2 linked regions of the Homo sapiens genome follow. The protein of the gene in region 1 purifies or fractionates together with the protein of each later gene. This does not show direct contact. Each region holds a gene or a part of one and is shown in the gene's direction. Other genes may lie near its edges. The genes, in order: MLANA and GPR143.

Evidence for each region.
Region 2: the proteins of MLANA (region 1) and GPR143 purify together in Homo sapiens (co-immunoprecipitation; one study listed by IntAct). This does not show direct contact.

The regions. Positions count from the first base shown.
Region 1 is NC_000009.12:5,904,355-5,908,177, forward strand, and holds part of MLANA (melanoma antigen recognized by T-cells 1), read left to right. Parts: intron 1-2,530; coding exon 2,531-2,644; intron 2,645-3,823. UniProt on the Homo sapiens protein: Involved in melanosome biogenesis by ensuring the stability of GPR143. Plays a vital role in the expression, stability, trafficking, and processing of melanocyte protein PMEL, which is critical to the formation of stage II melanosomes.
Region 2 is NC_000023.11:9,759,172-9,762,994, reverse strand, and holds part of GPR143 (G-protein coupled receptor 143), read left to right. Parts: intron 1-2,168; coding exon 2,169-2,278; intron 2,279-3,568; coding exon 3,569-3,663; intron 3,664-3,823. UniProt on the Homo sapiens protein: Receptor for tyrosine, L-DOPA and dopamine.

The DNA.
Region 1 (3,823 bases):
ACCTGTTGCCTCTGTTCTTTGTTTCTATTTTTGTCTTTACTCTTTTTCTGCCTTTTGTGATTTTCACTGGACATTTTATATGATTCCATTTTCTCTCCTTTCTTGGCATATCAGTTATACTTTTTTCTTTTTGAGACAGAATCTCACTCACTCTGTCGCCCAGGCTGGAGTGCAGTGGCACGATCTCAGCTCACTGCCACCTCTGCCTCCCAGGTTCAAGTGATTCTCCTGTCTCAGCCTCCTGAGTAGCTGAGATTAAAGGTGCATACTACTATGCTCATCTAATTTTTGTATTTTTAGTAGAGACGGGGTTTCATCATGTTGGCCAGGCTGGAACTCGACCTCAAGTGATCCACCCACTTGGCCTCCCAAAGTGCTAGGATTACAGGCGTGAGCCACCGCGCCCAGTCCAGTTACACTTCTTTTTTTTTTTTTTTGAGACGGAGTCTCACTCCGTTGCCCAGGCTGGAGTGCAGTGGTATGATCTGGGCTCACTGCAAGCTCTGCCTCCTGGGTTCATGCCATTCTCCTGACTCAGCCTCCCAAGTAGCTGGGACTACAGGTGCCCGCTACCATGCCTGGCTAATTTTTTGTATTTATAGTAGAGATGTCATTTCACTGTGTTAGCCAGGATGGTCTCAATCTCCTGACCTCGTGATCCACACGCCTTGACCTCCCAAAGTGCTGCGATTACAGGTGTGAGCCACCGTGCCCGGCCTTATACTTCTTTTTTACTTTTTTTCAGTGGTTTCCCTAGAGTTTGCAACATACATTTACAACTAATTCAAATCCACTTTCAAATAACACTATACCATTTCATAGGCATTATGAGTATCTTAAAATAATCCTAATTCCTTCCTCCTGTAAACTAAAAACAAAATCCTAAATCCTCCAAACAACTGAATGGACCCCCTCTTCACCAAGGGGACCCCAGGGAAACCTGAAAAACTGAGTGTTGGCCATGACGGGAAGGGAGGTGAGAGATGCCTCATTATACTCCCTCCCTTTTAGAGTTTTAGGTACAACTGACCAGCATTAATTTTAAAATAGAGATTACAGGACTGACAGAATGAACTCTTTGTGGCAATATCAAATTAGGAACAAGACAATGCAAGGAAAGGGTTAAATCATGCCCTTCAAACCATAAAAAAATTTTTTTTTAATTAACCCCATATAATGTGGTATACTTTCCAAACTGACTCTGGTATAGCATCACATGACAGATTGCAGACTCCCTTACCTTAAGCATTCCTTTATACTGACTTCAAGTCTTAAGACAGAGCTGAACTCTTTCAACCAGCTGCTAACTAAAGAATACCTAAAACCCACCTGTGACTTGTAAGTCTCTGCTTTGCCATGTCCTGCCTTTTCAGGCTGACCCAATGTATACCTTCCGTGTATTGATTTATGATTTTTACCTACAATTCCTGTCTTCCTGAAACATATAAAACCAAATCATAACCCAACCACCTCAGGCACACTTTCTCAGGACCTCTTGAGACTATTCTCCCGGCCATGGTCATTCATATCGGCACAGAATAAACCTCTTTAAAATATTTTGCAGTTTTTTTCTTTCTGTTAACATTCCTTTCCCTTGTATCATTGCTGTTATTAATTTCAAGTATATATAAGCATACCTAATTAAATACATTGTTGCTATTATTCATTTTTGAACAAACTATTATCTGTTAAATCAACTAAGAATAAGACAAATATGTTGGGTGCAGTGGTGCATGCCTATAGTCTCAGCTACTCAGAGGCTGAGGCAGGAGGATTGCTTGAGCTCAGGAGTTTAAGACCAGCCTAGGCAACTTAGCAAGATCATGTCTCTTAAAAAAAAAAAAAGAAAGAAAGAAAAACAAAGTTTTAGGAGGCTGAGGCAGGAGTATCACTTGAACCCAGGACGCAGAGGTTGCAGTGAGCCGAGATCGTGCCATTATACTCCAGCCTGGGCAACAGAGTGAGACTCTGTCTCAAAAAAAAAAAAAGAAAAGAAAAGAAAAGAAAAAAAAAGTTTTTATTTTACCTTCACTTATTCCTTCTTGGATGTTCTTCCTTTATGTAGGTACAAGGTTCTGACCTATGTTATTTTCTTTTTCTCTAAAGAACTTCAAAAGTTTCCTGCAAGGCAGGTCTACTGGCAATGAATTCCCTCAATTTTTGCTTGACAAAGTCTTTATTTCTGCTTCACTATTGATGGATAATTTCACAAGAGTGTTCCTTTTGTAGATTCACTCTTCTTATCCTTCCCTTCAGAAATATTCTTTGACCAACTATTGGGTCCCAGGTACTGCACTAGAGCTTTACTTCTAGTTAATTCCCACAGCAATTCTGAGAGGTAGGTAGGTATTATATTCCTAGATGCAAACTCAGAATTCAGAAGGTAAAGTGATGAGACTGAAGGCACACAGCAAGTAAGTGGCAGAACCTAGATTAAAACTCATTCTTAAAACTTTGGCTTCCTTCTCTTTTCTTTAATGGATTCAGTTACTTCTTCTCACCCACTCACCTTTATCAATTTACATTTCAGGATAAAAGTCTTCATGTTGGCACTCAATGTGCCTTAACAAGAAGATGCCCACAAGAAGGGTTTGATCATCGGGACAGCAAAGTGTCTCTTCAAGAGAAAAACTGTGAACCTGTGGTAGGTTAAGATCCTTCATAAGGGTATTTTCATGAATGGCTGTTTTTAACTCAAGTGAATACAATTATTTCCATTTAAAAAGCAAGGACAATGTGAATGTACTCATTGCCACTGAACTATATACACCTAAAAATGGTTAAAATGGCAACTTTTATGTGTATTTTATGAGAATAAAAAATAAATAATAATAAAAAACAAGGGAAGTACAGATATTTTCTTAATTGTGTTGTCACATACCCAGTGTTTCCAGGGTCAATAATGAGAGCCCTACATGTAAGATTCAAAGGAAGAATTTAGTCCTGGATACAATATTCTTTTATGTTTTTAGTTATATTTGCCTTTTTAATGGATGCAGATATATACAGAGGGAAGGGATAAAGTACCTATTATTTATTGTATAGAGCTGTGCTGTCTGATGGCTTAGCCACTAGTCACATGGTGCTATTGAACACTTAAAACACAGGAGTTTGAAATAAGATGTATTATAATACATATCATATTTCAAAAATATTAGTATGTAGAAAAGAAGATAAATGGTTCATTAATGATTTTTATATTGATTCACCTTGAAATAAATATTCTGAAAATATTAGGTTAAACAAAATATTTTAAGATTAATTTTACATGTTTCTTCTTTTAAATGTAGCTACTAGAAATTTTAAAATTACATATGGCTGGGCATGGTGGCTCACACCTGTAATCCCAGCACTTCGGGAGGCCGAGGTGGGTGGATCACCTGATCTCAGGAGCTCGAGACCAGCCTGGCAAACATGGTGAAATCCTATCTTTACTAAAAATACAAAAATTAGCCAAGCGTGGTGGTGCATGCCTGTAATCCCAGCTACTTGGGACGCTGAGGCAGGAGAATCACTTGAACCCGGGAGGTGGAGGTTGCAGTGAGCCGAGATAGTGCCACTGCACTCCAGCCTGGGAGACAAGAGCAAAACTCCATCTCAAAAATAAATAAATAAAATAAAATTACATAAGTGGCTTGTACCATATTTCTATTGGACAGCACTAGTACATATACAACACAGCATAATGGTTGAGAGCACTGACTCTGGAGCCAAATTACTGTGTTTGATTCTTAGCTCCACAACTTACTAGTTGTGTGACCATGGGCAAGCGAGTTAACCTCTCTGTGCCCCAGTTTCCCATTCTGTAACATGAAAATAATAA
Region 2 (3,823 bases), on another chromosome or scaffold:
ACGATCCAGCCTGGGTGACAGCCAAGACCCTGTCTCTAAAAAAGTAAGGTGTACCCAAACATCTTTTGAGGGTTAGTGAATAATACTTGCATATCCTTTAGCCTTTAGAAGGGAAGTGGATGAGGTTGCGAGCAAATAAGCAGAAGTCAGGAAAAGGCTGGGTGATCGGGACCCCTTACTGAAAAATAAGAAATTTCAATGCCCATGGGATAGGGCTTTTATTAAGCTCAAAGGAGTGATAAATGCTGAAAATTCTAAGGCACCGTACAGAAGAAAGGCATTGTTTTTGTTGGCAGTGGCTTGATAATGAGAAGATGTCTTGAGCTTTTTAGTGTTCACAGTTGTCGTTTAGTAGTGTATTACATAGTGTGTGTTTAGTGGTATATTACATGGTATGTGTTTAGTAGTATATTACGTAGCATTTGTTTAGTGGTGTATCGCATGGTGTGTGTTGCATATTATATGGTGTGATTTTAGTAGTGTATTGCACAGTGTGTGTTTAGTGGTGTATGGCATGTTTACCAGTGAGCACTACTACATAGTATGTAGCTTGGTGTTGTTTACAGTTCTCCCCTTTATATTACCTAGCATACTTTTTTTTTTCTCAGATGGAGTCTCACTCTGTCGCCCAGGCTGGAGTGCAGTGGTACAGTCTTGGCTCACTGCAACCTCCACCTCCCAGGTTCAAGCGATTCTTGTGCCTCAGCCTCCTGAGCAGCTGGGATTATAGGTGCCCACCACCGTGCCTGGCTAATTTTTGTATTTTTAGTAGAGATGTGGTTTCCCCATGTTGGCTAGGCTGGTCTTAAACTCCTGACCTCAGGTGATCCACCCACCTCAGCCTCCCAAAGTGCTGGGATTACAGGCGTGAGCCACCATGCCAGGCTCTTTACTTTTCTTTTCTTTTTGACACAGGGTCTCACTCTGTCGCCCAGGCTGGAGTACAGTGGTGCGATCTCGACTCACTGCAACCTCCGCCTTCCGGGCTCAAGCGATTCTCCCACCTCAGCCTCCTGAGTAGCTGGGACCACAGGCGCGTGCCACCACCTCCAGCTAATTATTGTATTTTTGTAGAGATGGGGTTTTGCCAGGCTGGTGTCATCTCCTGGGCTCAAGTGATCCGCCGGCCTTGGCCTCCCAAAGTGCTGGGATTACAGGCGTGAGCACCGCGCTCAGACCCTAGTGTACTTTTAAACAACGGATATTGCATTACCTAACAAAGAACCATAATATGTACCATGAGTGTGCATACTGTTTTGAGGATATTAGACATTTGGGTCTAATAGCAAGAGAAACTCACAAAGAATAAATGTTAAAGGCAAATTATTGAGAATTAATTTGTGAAAATTTTAAATGTTGTGTTTAAAAAAGAATGAAGGAACTATATATTCAAACTTCTAAATTGTGCTTTTTGAAAAATTCTTTTTTATGTGAGGAATAACTAATATGGCCACTGAAAATGCAGCCGAGAAATCCAGATTGCTAGTCACATATTGCAAGTAAACCAACAGACAAACAAAATAGGGATGAGACTGTGGCCAACTATGGTTTGCGTTAAAGTGCCTGCGTTTGTTTTGCTACCATAAGTTATTTTCTGAGTTTCAGGCCAGGCGCGGTGGCTCACGCCTGTCATCCCACTTTGGGAGACCAAGGCGGACAGATCACTTGAGGTCAGGAGTTTGAGACCAGCCTGGCCAACATGGTGATACCCCGTCTCTACTAAAAATACAAAAATTAGCTGGGCGTGGTTGTGGGTGCCTGTAATCCCAGCCACTCGGGAGGCTGAGGCAGGAGAATTACTTAAACCTGGGAGGCGGAATTTGCAGTGAGCAGGGTTTTTACCACTGTACTGCAGCCTGGGTGACAGAGCCAGACTCCGTCTCAAAAAAAAAGATAAATAAAAAATAAAAATAAAAAAAAGTTATTTTATGAGTTTCAATCTTCTTTTTCTCTCTCTGCACACACAAATATGTATGTTTTTTCTTCCTTTCTTCCTTTTCCCTCCTTGTCTTTTTCCCTCCCTCTCTCCCTCCCTCCTTTCCTTCCTTCCTTCTTCCTTCCTCTCTTCCTATCTCTATCTATTATGTATCTATCATTTTTCCAAAGCAAGAAGTCAGCTTTATATTTGATTAGGATCAGATACAAAGTATTATCCAATTCTCTCTTAGGTATGGTGATCCGGTCCACCGTGTGGTTAGGATTCCCAAATTTTGTTGACAGCGTCTCGGATATGAACCACACGGAAATTTGGCCTGCTGCTTTCTGCGTGGGGAGTGCGGTGAGTCCACCCCCTCTGCATGCCCTCTCCTCCCTACTTATGCTCCTCAAATCGCAGCAGCAGCAAACCCTGGGAGTCTGTTAGAAATGCAGGTTCTCACGTCCTGCCCCATCCTGCTGATCAGGAACCCAGCCCTCTCTGTTTTAACAAAACCCTCCAGGGGATGCTGCCCAGACACTCAAGTGTTGTTTCTCCCACCTCTTCACAAATGCATCCTCCGCTTACATGGGGCCACGAGCAAAACCAGCTGGCACAGAAAAAGTTATCAATCCATTGGATGCATTTTGTATAAATATATACATAAATATATTAAATAAAACATACAAGCCGGGCACGGCAGCCCACACCTGTAATCCCAGCACTTTGGGAGGCCAAGGCAGGTGGATCACTTGAGGCCAGGAGTTCCAGACCACCCTGGTCAACAGGGTGAAACCCCGTCTCTACTAAAAATACAAAAATTAGCTCGGCGTGGTGGTGTGTGCCCATGGTCCTAGCTACTCAGGTGGCTAAGACAGGAGAATTGCTTCAACCCGGGAGGCGGAGGTTGCAGTGAGCCAAGATCGCGCCACTGCACTCCAGCCTGGGTGACAGAGTGAAACTCCATCTTCAAAGAAAAAAAATAAAACCACATAATTATATATAAACAAATTATTGAAAAAGTAAATAGATATCATATATACACAGACACACATACACATGTATGTTATGCTCCATCCGTCACGGTGGTGCTCAGGTGAGTGATTTGAAGCACATTCCCTGATGCTGTGTTGATTGCCCTGTGCTGGAGCAGAATTGCCAGTTTCCTTGCTTCCCTGTCCTCAGTGGCTTCCTAACTGCATCTATGGAGGCTCTGTCTCAGCCCGCAGTGGCGAGACATCTTGACCTTGTGTCGTTTCTAACACTGGAGTCCCCTTACTCCATCTTCTCTTTGGAAGGACTGCCTGAGTCCCTCCTCCCCGTACTCATTCTTCCTCAGAACAAGAGCTTCTATCTAGTTCAAAGCCCCCTTGAGCCTGCACCTCAGTTTAAATGACATATCTTGGAACTTCATCCTCCCTGCATACAAGTGGAGCAGAAGGCATAGTTCCTTAGTCAAATCTGAATGCCTACACCTATCCCAGGCCACACCCTCCTTGGTCCCAGGAACTGTGCCCACTTGTGTCCCGAGAGCTGTCACGTGCGGCTTCCTGACGTCAGAGGAAGCCAGTGTCTACCCTGCCGTCTCAAGGATGGGCTGGGCTTCTTGTACCTGTTTCCAGACATTTTGATGCAGGCTCTTCCCGATTGCAGATGTGGATCCAGCTGTTGTACAGTGCCTGCTTCTGGTGGCTGTTTTGCTATGCAGTGGATGCTTATCTGGTGATCCGGAGATCGGCAGGACTGAGGTATTCACCGAGGAAATGGGATTTCTGCCCTAGTTCTATTTTAGAGGGAAGATAAGAGATGGCACTGAGCGTTTAAAAGTATTTTGCAGTGTTGCAGACACCGTCATTCAGAATCTGTCAGCTGGCCCCTCCGCCTAGAAACATCCACAGCAGCTCATTT